Regions from separate parts of the Homo sapiens genome. Here region 2 is linked to region 1. A link means that fine-mapping ties the variant in region 1 to the expression of a gene that starts in the linked region. Tissue or cell type: whole blood. Region 1 holds a variant in brackets; the other region holds the start of a gene. All regions are shown on one strand. Distances are between the middles of the regions.

Region 1 (8,185 bases):
TTAAAAAATTATATTACTAGCCTTTGTTCAACAAGCTTGTATAAGTGTAATGACCTATTTTATAAATTATTTTTATTGTATTTTAAATTAGATGTTTATTGATGACTTAGCAAGAAATACATTACTCTCAACACTAAAAGCCTATTAACATTAAATTATAAAATTTAGTATTTCCAGAATATTTCTTGCAGACACCAATCCCATCAATGTTTCAACTCAATTTAATAGGCATCTTGTGAAGAACTGGTATAGAAAATCAGAGTTTTGCTCAATGCCTAATTATCATAAATTGAAGCATTTATTGTCTTCTATGTTCTTAGTACCATATTTAGTTATAGGACAATTCATAGTCCTATATGGTGCTATGGTATAGCAATAGGCTATACCATATAGCCTAAGTGTGTAGTAGGCTCTACCATGTAGGTTTGTGTAAGTGCACTCTATGATGTTCACACAAGGACAAAATCACCAAACAATGCTTTTTTCAGACTGTACCCTGTCGTTAAGCAACATATGACTGTGTTTTATATGGGAATATGGACACCAAAATGTTATTCTCTATGTGTATTATGAGTAATTTTTATTTTTTGTTTTATACTTTTTATATTTTTTCAGAAATAACATCAATACTTTGTAATCAGAAAAATATATTTTAGGGATAAGTATTGGCTTGTACAATTTTTTTTTTGCTTTTGTGAAAATACAGAGGAAAAACTAATGTTATATTATAACGAAAATGGTATATGTTAACAAAGGAATCCTTTTACAGAAACTCCTTAGAAATAAAAGGAAAATCAAGGCCAAAGCAAAAGTCATGTCATGACTTTAAAGAACTTTGCCCCCTAGGATACAAAATCTATTAATTTTAACGGTGGGGCTACTGTTTGTAAGAGTACCAAACATTCTGAATAGATAGAAGCCTCCAGCTGTAAACTGATGGACTTTTGTGGTCTCAAAGCAGTTGAGGGTTTCTACCCTTAAAATACCATTTCTCATGTTACAGCAATTGAGAGTGTGCAAAATGTATAGAACAGATTGTGTTTCACTCTATTTGCGTGGCTTGTTGAAGTTAGATTAATACTGTGGGAATCCTTACTCCATTCATAACTCTGAATATGTACTTATGGTATTTATATATCTAGAATTTAAGTAATCACTCTTGCCCACCATCTGTACACGGATAATTTTTACCCTGGGAGCTATTGGTTCCAATGTATTGTTTTGACATTATACGCTATAGTTGATTCAAACAGAAGTGAATACCACAACAGTTGGCACTCTAAAATAAAATCCAGACCAATAACTTTCACAATTTTGTGGAATCTAATATGCCTATTACCCACACTGAGTCCACTACAGAATTAAAGTGAAAACTTGGAAAAGTAAGAATGAGATCTATATAAAAATTATCATCCCTCACTTGACAAAAAATTCTCATTGAAATCAATTGAGACTACAGGGTTCAATCTAGGAAAGTTGTATAGACCTAGAGTTCCCCAAATTTCTCAACTATGTCTGTTGACTGATATTTATGGCTTCCCTTTTCATTTATATTCTTTTTCTTTTCAAACACAGTGTAGTATAACTTGTTTAATTTTTTTAAAGTCTGAAGACTCAAAAACAAAACTAAACAATTTGAAAGCAAAACCTTACTGGCAGTGCAGATGCAACTTACAAAATATGAGAATCAGATGTGGAGATCTTTAGGGATTATAACATTTTAGATGATGATGATGATAACAATTATTATTATTATTTGAGACAGGGTCTCACTCTGTTGCCCAGGATGGAGTGCAGTGGCGTGATCTTGGCTCACTGCAACTTCCACCTCCTGCGTTCGAGAGATTCTCCTGCCTCAGCCTCCCAAGTAGCTGGGACTACAGGCACGTGTCACCATGCCTGGCTAGTTTTTGTATAGGTTGATGCAAAAGTAACTGTGGTTTTTGCAATTTTAAAAGTTATTTAATATTTTTGGTAAAGACAAGGTTTCACCATGTTGGCCAGGCTGTTCTTGAACGCCTGACGTCAAATGATCTGCCTGCTTTGGCCACTCAAAGTGCTGGGCTTACAGGTGTGAACCACTGAGGCTGGCCCCTTTTAGAAATTTTAATAGTAGCCAAGGCATGATCGGTACCAAACTATCTAATTCCAGCTACAAAGGTTGTTTGAAAACTCATTTTTAGAAGTTTGATAGCCTGTCCATAATCATACCACTTCCCACAAGCTTGAAAAAAAGAAAAAAAAGCAGGGGATAGCACATGGATTATACAAAAGGATAAAAGGATTATTATTATGTATTTATTTATTTATTTTTGAGACAGAGTCTTGCTCTGTCACCCAGGCTAGAGTGCAGTGTCGAGACCTTGGCTCACTGCAACCTCCACCTCCCGGGTTCAAGTGATTCTCATGCCCTAGCCTCCCAAGTAGCTGGGATTACAGGTGTGCGCCATCACAACCAGCTAATTTTTGTATTTTTAGTAGAGTTGGGGTTTCACCATGTTGGCCAGGCTGGTCTTGAATTCCTGGCCTTAAGTGATCCACTGACCTCAGCTTCCCAAAGTACTGGGATTACAAGTCTAAGCCACAGTGCCTGGACAAAAGGATTATTTTAAACATAACTAATGTTGCTTATTTACAAGTTTTTATGTACTTCTAAATTTCAATATATTTAAAGTTTTCTGTTGACTAATTTAATCAAAACCTGTCTAAAGTTGAAGAGAGAAGATCCTGAGAAGTTACGTATTGATTAATTCCTAAACTTAGTTGTAATGTATATTGACCTAACTCTAACTTTATCTGAAACTAATAGGTCAACCTAATATTAGGTCAACATTATTATTATTATTTGTTTATTTATTTAATTTGTTTTGAGAAGGAGTCTCACTCTGTGGCCCAGGCTGGAGTGCAGTGGCACAATCTCGGCTCACTGCAAGCTCCGCCTCTGGGGTTCACACCATTCTCCTGCCTCAGCCTCCCAAGTAGCTGGGACTACAGGTGCCCGCCACCATGCCCGGCTAATTTTTTGTATTTTTAGTAGAGACAGGGTTTCACCGTGTTAGCCAGGGTGGTCTCAATCTTCTGTATGTCAATATTGCTAACTGAATACTAGGTCAATATTATTACATTGTTCTAATTCTGAATGTTGATGCCCATATGGTTAGCGCTAATAACCGTTGAATATGTCTGCAGTTTATCAAGGAGTTTTATCTTGTTCTAACAACAAAACAAAAGAAAAAGAAAATAGAAAACAGTGGGCATATTCAATCATCAAAGGACCCAATAACAGAGAGAAATGTAATTTACATTTCTTGAATGCCACTATACATCAGACATTATGCTAGGCATTTTACATGGATTTATTGCTTAATCTTCCCAACGATCCTATGAGTAATTATGAGTAATGTATTATTATCCTATTTTACAGATGAAGAAAATGAGACTTGAAGGCAGAAAGTGGAATGTAGATGACACTCAGCTCTTCTTTGAGATGAAAACCCAAATGCATGAGGATAAATCAGAGGAAGTTATTATAAGACAGGGAGGTTGAGAAAAATGTGTCACATGAGTTTCAGCACGAACAAAAGCAAGGTACTTTCATTTAAAATGTATTTAGAGGATAATGATAAGTCATTATTAACTACTCCTCTAAAATAATAATCCTCAATGGTTACAGCCAATATGCCAATAGAAGATTGGGCATTGCCAAAAATTAAAGGAAAATTAAATTGAAAACACTGTCCTTCCTTTCAACAAACTATGATATATCCCCATCTAAATATTCTACCCCATTCTGCTTGTTTCATCTCTAGAAATGAATAATGGAACCAGCCAGGCATGGTGGCTCACACCCGTAATCCCAGCACTTTGGGAGGCAAAAGTGAAAGGTTGGCTTGAGCCCAGGAATTTGAGACCAACCTGGGCAACATAGTGAGACCTCATCTGTACCAAAAAATATATATAAATAAATAAGTAAATTAGCTGGATGTGGTGGCAC[G/A]CACCTATGGTTCCAGCTACTCTGGAGGCTAAAGGTGAAAGCCACAGTGAGCCATGATCACGCCACTGCACTTTCAGCCTGGGTGACAGAGCAAGGCCCCATCTCAAATAATAATAATAATAATAATAATGGAACCAAGGAAGGCCCAAATGAAATTGAGCTTTTACCGAAAAGTGTCACTTGAAGTTTTTTTATGCTAAGAATAGTGTCTTTTATTCTCAGATCACTTTTCATGATATGCTCGTCTAAACCCTGGAGTATGGTGGCAAGAAAGATGAACATGCTCACTCAGACTCTTATTCAGTAATTCATATAATAAATGTTATACACTGTACAGACACTAGAAATCAAAGATGATAAAGGTAACTTTTAGACACTTCCTGTCTAGACATCCCTGCCATTTTACTCTGATTTGGGCTATAAATCTAACCTGCACCAGGCTCTACCTGCCCGCTTGGGCTTGGAGAAATGGTTCCTTATTGTTGCACTGGTTTTCTTCAGCCTCCATCCTACACAAACCCTGGCCTAGATCATTCTCCCATCGCTCAGAGGCAAGCTGGTTACAAAAGTTTTATTGCCACTATTCCTCACCCCAACTAGCCTGGTTTTATGGACAAAATGTTTGATCTATGTTGGACCCTGGGATCAAAGTCCCTATGTCAACTTCAAATCCTTGCAGAAAAGAAAGGGGCAGAACCCATCTCTGTTCATAGACCTCGATTTTTATACAGAGTAAAATATTTTCATCAGGCCTTAGTGCAGATCATAGCACACGAAGACAATAAATCTACAGTACATTTTCTAAAATATTTATTTGATAAAACATGGTCAATTTACCATTTAGAAAGAAAAAGTGCAGCTCTCTGCCAGTGCTCTCATTTAATTTTCCATAAACACCCTCTTTGAGGCTGAAGCAAATCTGATGATTTTCAATGCGAAAACAAAATATAAAAACTGTTCTTGGAGTTATTTCTAAACAGAAGTAACAACAGAATCATCTGAATTATCAGAATCATCTATTTTGGAAAAATCGGATTCATCAAATGAATCTTCAGCCAACAATTGTCCAATAACAATGTTAATTAACATCGTGCATAAGAATGCTATGTATTCTAGGATTTGACATTTTTAGCCTTTTTAGCCATAGAGAATTACTACATTTTGTAAATGGAAATGCCATTACTAAAAACAGAATGTTATAAATAGAATGATGTCTTTTTTTCTTTTAATTTTTTAAGACAGAGTCTCCCTCCGTCACCCAGGCTGGAGTGCAGGGGCGCCATCTCAGCTCACTGCAACCTTCGCCTCCTGGGTTCAAGCGATTCTCATGCCTCAGCCTCCCAAGTAGCTGGGATTACAGGCATACACCACCACGCTCAGCTAGTTTTTGTATTTTTTAGAAGAGATGAGGTTTCACCACACTGGCCAGGCTAGTCTTGAACTCCTCGCCTCAAGTGATCTGCCCACCTTGGCCTCCCAAAGTCCTGGGATTACAGGCGTGAGTCACCACTGTCAGCCTGAAAGATGTCTTTTGTTTACAGAGTTGATATACTAGAGCAGTGTGAAAATAATAATGAGGCTGGGCACGGTGACTCACGCCTGTAATCCCAGCACTTTGGGAGGCCGAGGCGGGCAGATCACGAGGTCAGAAGATCGAGACTATCCTGGCTAACACGGTGAAACCCCGTCTCTACTAAAAATACAAAAAAAATTAGCCGGGAGTGGTGGCGGTTGCCTGTAGTCCCAGCTACTCGGGAGGCTGAGGCAGGAGAATGACGTGAACCCGGGAGGTGGAGCTTGTAGTGAGCCGAGATCACGCCACTGCACTCCAGCCTGGGCGACAAGAGCGAGACTCTGTCTTAAAAAATAAAAATAAAGAAAAAATAAAGAAAGAAAGAAAGAAAGAAAATAATAATGAAAGTGAGCTATTTCATGGCAAAGTTATCTCAAGGTAAATGCTGCTGCAGCAAGCGCTGCTGGTGAGTATTCTCTGGGCAAATGGGAAAAGGGTTAATGAATATTAACTCAATTAATGTTAACAAGCTCCTAATGGGAAATATATGGATCGTTGAAATAACATTAATCTAGTAACTACAATGGAAATAAAGGTCAGAACCAGCCTGGTAGTTTCAGAAAACACAGAGGACTGGGCCCCTCTTTCCCAAGGCTGGCCCTGAACTGGGCACAGAAGATTGATAGCACAAACACCATGCCTTTTCTGATGCTGGCTTGGATGAACTCACTGAGCCAGACTCCTTGGTTTGGCCATCTTTTTATCCCTACAGTTATTATCGTCTATTTTCTGACCTGGAGTACCTCTCATATGAGCAGCTGGGTACAACTGCCCCTACTAGGGGCCTGTACTTCTGCTGAAGGCTAAAGATTTGTCACAGGTTGAGTTCTCTGGGAAGAACACCCTGAGATGGAAATTAGCATGCAGGGAGTTTATTACAAAGTCTCTTGGGATCAAAACCTGTTTGGGAAGGGAAGAAAGCAAGACTGGGCAGAAGGAGAATTTGGCTACAATGTAGTCACACAAGGCCTTAGGGACCCCCCGGGGGAGCTGTGAAGATGGAGAGTTGCCTCCAGTTGAAGTAAAGTTGATGATGCTGAGCATCTTTTGATGTGCTTTTTGTACATTTGAATCTCTTCCTTAGAGAAATGTCTATTCTGATCCTTTGTCCATTTTTAAATTGGGCAATTTGTCTTTTTTTTGAGTTGTAAGAGTTCTTTACATATTCTGGATAAAATTATTTCATTATATATGATTTGCAAATATTCTATGGTATCTTTTTACTTTCTTGATGGTGTCCTTTGTAGTACCAATTTTTTCTTTTTGATGAAGTCCAATTTATTTTCTTTGGTTGCTTGTGCTTTTGGTGTCGTATCTAAGAAATCATGGTCTAATCCAAGATCTCAGCTGTAGTTTATTCTGGGTTTTATAGTTTTAGCTCTTACATTTAAGACTGATTAATTCTGAGCTATCTTTTGTATATCATATACAAGTAAAAATTCAACATGGGCAACAACCTATACACTGTAACACTTGGCTAAATTACAAAGCAGTCGAGTGAGGTCTTCTGAAGCCTTAAAGTAAAGAAGAATGTTTTCTGTCAAAACTCCTGGTTGTGTGTATACTGCCATGAAAGGCCTGCAGTTCTTGGCAGGTTGCTACCGTACATTCAATATCCTGAATATAGTCTGCACAGACATATGTGGCCTGCATGCATCCTAACACCTTCTTGTACCTGAGGGCCTACAACACCTGCCTGGGTCAAAGATAGGCCCTTCAGGCACACGGGGTGACAGTGCCCACTCCCCAGTATTTGCACAGGCATGTGGCTGACAAGTCTGTACTCAAAGTTCTGAATATGTAAATCACTGCAGGTAACATAGAAGAAATGAAGAAATATTTTAAAGAGATTAATCAGATTTTAGGTTAAGCTGATCAAATCTATTAGAGGTAACCTTTAGAAAGTTTTCAAAGCAAGCTGGGCATGGTGGTGAATGCTTGTAGTCCCACCTACTTGGAAGGCTGAGGCAGGTGGATCCCTTGAGACTAGCCTGGGCAATATAGCAAGGCCCTTGTCTCTGGGGGAAAAAAAGAGAATATTTTCAAAGTAGAAGAGTAGAAGAAAAGAAGCATTTTAAGAGCTAAATTGATGTGTGCTCAAGAAGAAGTATCCTTGATAAAGCATCCTACCTAGACCTCAGCAGAAGAAACTACCAATTTCTGGTTGGGTGGTTGTATATAAGAGAGTTTTAGGCTGAAATAAGACTGAAATTTAAAGCTAACAAAATGTCTTAAAGATCTGGACCACAGGCATTAATCAGCTGAGGAAATAAAAGCTAAAGAATTAGTTTGTAAAGCTTAATGAATTAAATTAGGTTAAGCTAATTGAAGTTAAGTTGTTCTGCAACTATATTCCACCTACTTTTATAATGTTTGTACCCTAAGATTTCCTTTCAGGAGAACAAACTAGTTTTACTGTCTCATCAGCTAACCAAATATGCTGTGCTGAGAACTGAGAACTGAAAGGGTTTAAGCCTTAAGTAAAATGCAGGGCAAGCTGGGCACCTTTGCACACACCTATGTTCTCAGCTACTTGGGAGGCTGCAGTGCAAGATCTCTTGAGCCCAGGAGTTCAGGTCCAGCTTGGGCAAAATAGTGAGACCCTGTTTCTAAGAAAA
Region 2 (8,185 bases), 33 kb after region 1:
GGAAGGCTTACATATTGCTTACACTTTGGAAAACAGTTTGGCAGTATCTTAAAATGTTAAACATAAACTTATCATACAACTCTGTAATTCCACTTCTAGGGATCTACTCAAGAAAAATAAAAAACGAATGTCCATACAAAGATTTGTACACAAATGTTCATAGCAGTCTTATTTATAATAGCCCCAGATTGAAAACAACATAAATGTCCTTCAACTGGCGAATGGATAAACAAAATGTAGTACATTCATTCAAATGGAGTCTATTTGGCAATAAAAAGAAATAACTACTGACTGGTACAACGTAGATGAACCTAAAAAATATTCTGAGTGAAAGAACCCAGATGCAAAAGACTACTTATTGTATGAAACCATTTATATGAAATTGTCAGAAAGCAGATAGCAGATTGCCTAGGGCTTGGAAGGAGGGTTGACTGCAAATGCGCATAATGAATTTTTTGGGGGTGATGGAAATGTTTTAAACGTGGATTGTGGTGATGATTGCACAATTCTAGTCACTGCTTATTGTAGACATTTAGGAACTGAAAGCGACAGACATTCTATCTCAACCCAAGCTTCCATGATTACCATAGCATGGGGGAGGGAGATGTGTCTCTGCTTCTTAAAGATTCTCCTGAGAAGTGATACATGTCACCCATTTTATTGGTCAAAGCAATTAACTTCAGGGGTGCAAGAAAGTGCAAATTTTTTTTTCTTTTTTCTTCGAGACAGAGTCTCCCTCTGTCGCCTAGGCTGGAGTGCAGCGGTGCAATCTTGGCTCACTGCAATCTCGGCCTCCTGGGTTCAAGTGATTCTCTGCCTCAGCCTCCCAAATAGCTGGGATTACAGGCATGCACCACCACGCCCGGCTAATTTTTGTATTTTTAGTAGAGACAGAGTTTTGCCATGTTGGCCACGCTAGTCTGGAATTCCTGGCCTAAAGTGATCTGCCCCCCTCAGCCTCCCAAAGTGCTGGGATTACAGGCGTGGCCACCGCGCCCGGCCAGAGTGCAATTTTACTATGTGTCTGGAAGAGAGGGGAACCAGAATACTTATGAACCACCCTAAGGATGATCACAGAAATACATACAACAATAAAGGGTACAGTTTACTCTGATCAGAGTTCACTCTATATTTCCGAGGAACCACAACTACAGCAGGTTTTTTTTTTTTTTTTTTTTTTTTTTGAGGCAGTCTCACTGTGGCTCAAGTAAGCCTACCACCTCAGCCTCCTGAATAGCTGGGACTACAGGCAGGGGCCCAGCTAATTTTTAAATTTTTTGTAGAGACAGGGTCTCACTATGTGGCTCAGACTGCATACTGGTCTGGAACTCCCCAGCTCAAGTGATCCTTCTACCTTGGCCTTTCAAAGTACTGGGATTACAGGAGTGAGTTGCTGGTGGCTGGCTGACAGGTATTCTTTATACTTGACTGTGACTCCCTGAGTGTCCTTAAATCTCTGAACACTTGGTTTGCTTACACCTTTGTACTCACACGTTTGCACAGAAAAATAACACTTTTTTTTGATAGAGGCATAATTTACTTCTCTAATGTATAAGGGATTAGAATACTTTTGTGTAGCCAAAGAGCCTAAATTATTAGAGTTTCTGAGGTGGAAATGAATGCGTCTGAAGTATTGAATCACTGAAGATTTTGAAGTTGAGGCTTGGTGACCACTTTACAGAAATGTTGAGGAAAACTTAGACCAAACGTTCTCCAAAACAGATGTTCTCTGATTAGGCTTAGCTGCACAGCAAATATATCTGTTTGTGCAATATCTTTATTAATTTTTGTACTGCATCTACTTTTTAATATTTTATTTATTTATTTACCTTAATGCCACGTTCCTGAATGGGAATGCATCTACTTTTTTTTTTTTTTTTTTGAGATGGAGTTTTTGCTCTTGTTGCCTAGGCTGGAGTGCAATGGCACGATCTTGGCTCACCACAACCTCTGCCTCCTGGGTTCAAGCGATTCTCCTGTCTCAGCCTCCCGAGTAGCTGGGATTACAGGCATGTGCCACCACACCTGGCTAATTTTTGTATTTTTAGTAGAGACGGGGTTTCTCCAAGTTGATCAGGTTGGTCTCGAATTCCCGACCTCAGGTGATCTGCCTGTCTCGGCCTCCCAAAGTGCTGGAATTACAGGTGTGAGCCACCGCGCCCGGCTGCATCTGCTTTTTTTAAGTCAAAATTTTCCTCAGCCAACGTATGAAGGTCACTTAAGACGAATTTATGAGAGACGATGATGAGAATTGAAATAAAGTGAAACCTGAAAGGTAGTAGGTAAGTAGATACAGTGAGGGTACAGTAAGAAGACAGACTTAAAAGATTAGGACTATTATTCAGGAGAAGCAGAGGAGTGGAAGGGTATGACCACAATATTTAAAGTATTGAATGGTATTGGATAAAACGAATATGCTTATTTGCCAAATTCTGAGATCACAGGCTGAGGGAACCCCTTTTGAAGTATGAGCCAAATGAGCTTAGACCACAAAAGGTACTTTTTCAGAGACAGAAAAAATATGGTGTTCACTATCCCTGTGGCATAATATGGGACAAAAATATAAAATGGCTTTAAAAATATTTTGACGAAATTATAAATAAAGATTCCACACGTGGCTACTAAGAGGAGCTGGGTTGTATCTAGGTGTAAGTTAAAGAGACAAGCATACAATCTCACAGCTTGTCAGTTGGGACCCCTGTAGGCAGCAGAATCTGGGCAGGCTAAGGGTCTGCACTAATAAACAATTCTGTTTTCTTAAACCATTTTGCAGGGGACTATTCTCAGATTTCATTACAACTAGGAAGGACTGCAAAGCGGGTAAACAGAAAACAACCTTTCATCGTTAGGAAAAAAATCGTCTGAAAGTCTTTCATAAAAGCAGCTCCTGATAAGGAGTTTGGGACTGGACAGTGAATCGCTGAATAAAATTTAATCTCGACATCCTGGGTCTTCTCCCCTCTGAAGGAAATTCTAACAGCAGGCCTTAGGATGAAAGTAGAGGAAACGTGCTTCAGTTAAGGTTTTCTCCAGGGAAAAGAAATCGGCCCAGCAAGATGCACAGAGCACCGTTACGACCACGCACACCGAAGGTCGCACACGACCCTTTTCCTGTATAACAGTGCCAGCCTGCCGACGATCAGGAGCGCAGCTTTCACTATTGTGTTAGCCCCGGCGGCGGAAGGACTGAGCCTCACTGCAACGTTAAAGAGTCCTTCTTTGTTCAGCCCCAGTCGGGGACGCAGGGCGCGGTGTTCCTCCGCGCTCGCCGCGCAGTCCCTGCCCCCCCGCGGCTTTGGAGAGCTGCCATTCGGCACCGGAGTCGCTCCGCGCTCCCAGAATGCACCGGCAGTCCGCGGGAAACCAAAATGGCGAGGGGCTGTATTGAAGTGGGCTGTGTTTGAGGCCGGTGTAAGAACGCTCATTCTACCCCCAACCCTTGTCTCCAAGGACCTCGGTTTGTGCGTGCATATGTGCCGGGTACCCGGTGGGGCGGGTGCCCAGTAAGTGCTCGGACTCGCAGGGGAAGCGCCCACGGGGACGGATTGGTTGTTTTTTCCTGTATGAAGCGGTTGGCACCACTGAAGTGACCGAATGAGGTGAGAGACCTTGGCCTGGGAACCGACTCTTCCGGAGGAGATGGGGGTTGGGGGAAGGAGGAAGAAAGGAAGCAAGTATAAAAGGGAAAGATGGAGGACCAAGGTGGGGGTGGGGGCTCCTGTATGTGGGTGCCTTTGCATTTATGTGTATATTGAAAAGAATGGATGAAGAGGAGTAGTCAGTTGAGTGTTGGGAGAAAATAGGGACTAAAGGAGCGAGGAGGTCGTTGGGGGAGTCTGTTGGAGGAACAAGATGAAACGTTGAGACGGGGAAGCTGTGTTTGGAGGGCAGGAAGGAACCTGGGGGCGGGAGACGGTTGGAGGGGCAGGATGAACCTGGTGACGAGGGGGTGGGGAGCCGAGAGGAGGAGCCGTTGGGAAATGGGGGCTGAGGGAAATGTGGGGAGCAGAGTGGAGGGCTGCCTGGGACCTTAGCAGTGCGCAAAGGGAAGTAGCAGCTTGGAATCGGAGGGTGGAATTGTATGGAATTGGAGTAAAGGGGGTCGAGTGTAAGTGCTGGTAAGGATAAGGGGAACACACTGAAGTGGAGGTTGGAAGCACAACCTGAAAGCTTAAAGGGAAGCGGTGGGAGGGAAAGTGAGATGGGGGAAAGCTAGGTAGCTTATATTTGGAGCTCACCAAAAATATGAGGCTTTTCTTGTGTTTAATTAAACCTAACTCATATAATCTACGTCTAGGATGTAGATTTGTATTGTATTCATTTTTACAACTGAGGTAATTACGGCTCAAGGAATTTTAACCAATTTGCCAAGATTTCTTAACATATTTCGGTAGTGCCAGAACTCTAACTCTGTGTTTTACAATCTGGTGTCCTTGGTTGCTAGAATTTTTCTTTGGAAGCAATTAGAGGGAACAGATGGATTTATCGGGGTAATCTGACTAACAGCAAGGGTTTGTGAACAATGGGAAAAGGCTTATGGAATGTTACTCTATTCTTTAAAACATTTAACTTTGGTTAAAGATAGAAACCATGTAACACTAACTTAAATGTGAAAACCTAGCTAGGCCTGTGTGTAATACATAGGAAGGCACCATGTGAGGTCAGTACAGAGCTAGAAATATGTAAATAGTACCTGATTTAATTTGACTTCAGAACCTCCGGTAGTAATAGTAGTTACTTTCTCCTTCAGATGGATTCCATGTGACCCTCCTGTATACCTAGCCTACAAGCTGGTTTCAATTTCCATGGTTTCATTCTCTCTTGGGAATTCCTTTTTTTTTTTTTTTTGTCAGTAAATTTCAAAGATAGTTGTATGTAGAAGTAGTTAATGTGGATAAAATGTAATTAAATTCACAATAACCTTTTTAAGATTTGAAAATGCTTTAAAGGGAGTTGTTTTGACTGATGGCTTTAAGTGCCCTATAGTTTAGTTATAACTTGAGAGGGAATACAAAATGACTTGTTTTTTCAGATTCCTAAATATAAAAATGTATTTGAATTCACATTTTAAAATTAGTTCACCTGCAGTTTTTTAAAGTGCTAAAAATGTTCTAAATATTTGAATTAAGAACACACCTGCTTCCTGATACTACATTTATAATGTTAGTGGGTATTAACGGAAATGTGTAACTATCAGGATGAAATGCATACACAGTTTTAGAACTAGTTGTACAGAAATCATCTTGTTAAGCCTTTTTTCTAGATGACACAATTATATTTAATAGTTCTTTAAATCATCCCCGTTGCCTCAAAGCTCTGTTAGGAAAGACATTCTGTGTATTTTACTGTGGGTCATTAACTCTTTGATTTCATGGATTATAAATATTCCTTTTTGTGGGATCTTTGAAGGATAATTTGCTTTAATCATTTTTCAGCATAATCTTTACATCTGACTTGAGGAAACTGACAGTATATTGTTAATCTATATTTTAACAGAGAAATTTGCCTCTGAGGAGTTGCCATGACCAACATCTGTAGCTTGATGGTTCTGAAAGTAAAACTTAACTGCTGTTTTAGTTAGTCGACACTTCCATGAACGATCTTTGATGGTTAATATTTTTGTACTTTGTTTTCCCTGTTCTTCAGGAAAATTTGTTTATTGCTGTGAAATCCAGTATAACCATCCTAAATTGGAATGTAAAAGTTTCCCTGTGGATATTTCTTATATGTTAGAGTAGTGCTATCTAGTAGAAATTTCTCCAGTGATGGCAGTGTTCTATATCTGCTGTATCCAGTACAGTAGCCACTAGCTGCATGTGGGTATTGAACTCTAGAAATGTAACTAGTGAGACTAAGAAGTGAATTTATAATTTAATTCATTAAAACTAAAATTTAAATGGCCATATGTAGCAGTGCTACTGTATTGGACAGCACAGTAGTAGGGGTTATTGCATCCATGTATTGAGGAATTGTTACATTCATTAACCATGGAAACCACAGGAATCCAAGGATGAGGAAATGCCTGAGAACTGAGGAAGTTCAGATTCTTTTTGTACATTTAAGATGAAGTATTCATTTTTACCACATACCATGTCTTCTGTCATATTTCTGTTTTCATATAACATTGCAATAGAATAATGAAAGATAGTGACCTCTCTAGTCTTTTTAAAATATAAGATTCTGCTTCTGTGTCAAAAAACAACAAAAAATGGATATTAGGAACGTTTTGTTGTTTAAAAAAATTACTTTGTTTTTACACTTTGGTAGAAAAAACTTAAGGAATATTTCAAACATAATACAAAGTGAGCAGAATAGAATAGTGAGCTTTTATGTAACCATTCTTTTTTTTTTTTTTTTCTGTAAAAAGAGACAAGGTCTTGCTCTGTCACCCAGGCTGGAGTGAAGTGGTGCTATCATAACTTGCTGCTGCCTCAGACTCTTGGGCGGAAGTGATCCTCCTGCCTTAGCCTGCCGAGTAGTTAGGACTACAGGTGCACACCACCACACCTGGCTAATTTTTAAATTTTTAATTTTTTTTGTGGAGACGGGATCTTACTGTGTTGCCCAGGCTGGTCATGAACTTTTGGCCTCAAGCAGTCCTCCTGCTGTGGCCTCCTAAAGTGTTGGGATTGAGCCACTGTGCCCAGCCCATTGTTTTTATTATTTTTTAAAGGTTTATTTTTAGGTGAAGTTTACATATATTGAAATGCACAAATCTTAACTGTACAGTTGTTAATAAGTTTTATTGAGATATAATTTATATACTATAGTTATATGTACATAATTCACATGCATTCTTTGAAGGTGTACAGTTCAGTGATTTTTTTTAGTATACTCACAAAGTTGTGCAGCCATCACCATACCTAATTTCAGAATATTTTCATCATCCCAAAAAGAAAAGAAAATCTTAATCCATTAACAGTCAGTCCCCTTCACCTATCCACTATCCTCTGGCAACCACTAATCTACCTTCTGTGTCTATAAATTTGCCTGTTCTGGACATTTCATGTAAATGGAGTAGTACAATATGTGGCCTTTTATGTCTGGCTTCCTTCACTTAGCATGACTATATTAGTCCATTCTTGTACTGCTATGAAGAAATAACTGAGACTGGGTAATTTATAAAGAAAATAATTTTGATCGGCTTACGGTTCCACAGGCCATACAGGAAGCATGGCTGGGGAGGCCTCAGGAAACTTCCTGTTGAAGTGGCCCCCTTGAAGTGGCCACAGCAGGAGGATTAGAGATGGGGGCGGCTCCACATGCTTTTAAACAACCAGAGAACTCAGTATCATGAGAACAGCAGGGGGGAAAATCTGCCTGCATGATCTAGTCATTTCCCACCAGGGGCCTCCTCCAATGTTGGGGGTTACAATTTGACGGAATATTTGGGCGGGCACACAAAATCCAAACTATATCGTTAATGTTTTCATGGAACAGCCATGTTGTAGCATTTATAGTCACTTCATATCTTTTTAGGGTCAAATAATATTTCATTATATGAATATACCTTTTTTTGTTTGTCTAGTCATCAGTTGATGGACATTTGGGTTGTTCCCACATTTTGACTATTGTAAGTAATGCTGCAGTGATCATTCATGTATAGGGTTTGGGTGAACATGTTTTCATTTCTCTTGGGTACACATATCTAGGAGTGAAATTACTGGGTCAGATGATAACTCGGATTAGTGTTTTGAGGAACTGCCAAACTGTTTTTCAAAGAGGCTGTGCCATTCTACAAGCTCACTAGCGATTATCTGGTGAGTGATTATCTCACCAGTTTATCCACATCCTCACTGATACTTATTATTGTCTATCTTTTGATTATAACCATCCTAGGGTTTGAATTGGTATTTCATTGTGGTTTTGATTTGCATTTCACTTATGGCTAATTATATTGAGGATCTTTCCACATACTTGTTGGCCATTTGTATACCTTCTTTGGAGAACTGTCTATTTAAGTCTTTTGCTCATTTAAAAAATGGGACTGTCTTTTTATTCTTGGATACAAGCCTGTTATCAGATATGATTTGCAGACTTTTCTTCCCCCATCCTGTGCATTATCTTTTCACTTTCCTGATGGTGTCCTTTTAAGCACAAATATTCTTAATTTTGATAAAGTTCAATTTATTCCTTTTTTTTTTGCTTATGCTTTTGATGCCGTATCTAAAGAGCTTTATAGTTT

What was found. PIP is the estimated chance that this variant, and not a neighbour inherited with it, causes the effect.
Region 2: it holds the start of MTF2, and the variant in region 1 is fine-mapped to the expression of MTF2 in whole blood (INTERVAL, PIP 0.98).

The regions. Positions count from the first base shown.
Region 1 is chr1:93,043,255-93,051,439 of GRCh38, forward strand. No RefSeq gene overlaps it. Among named protein-coding and RNA genes, the nearest start is that of MTF2, 32 kb to the right of the region's middle. The variant G/A (reference allele first, on the strand shown) is at 3,995.
Region 2 is chr1:93,075,933-93,084,117 of GRCh38, forward strand. It overlaps MTF2 (metal response element binding transcription factor 2), which reads left to right and starts at 3,351. Exons shown (of 15, transcript NM_007358.4): 1 at 3,351-3,599. The coding sequence starts at 3,595. RefSeq lists enhancers at 2,914-3,163, 3,100-3,394.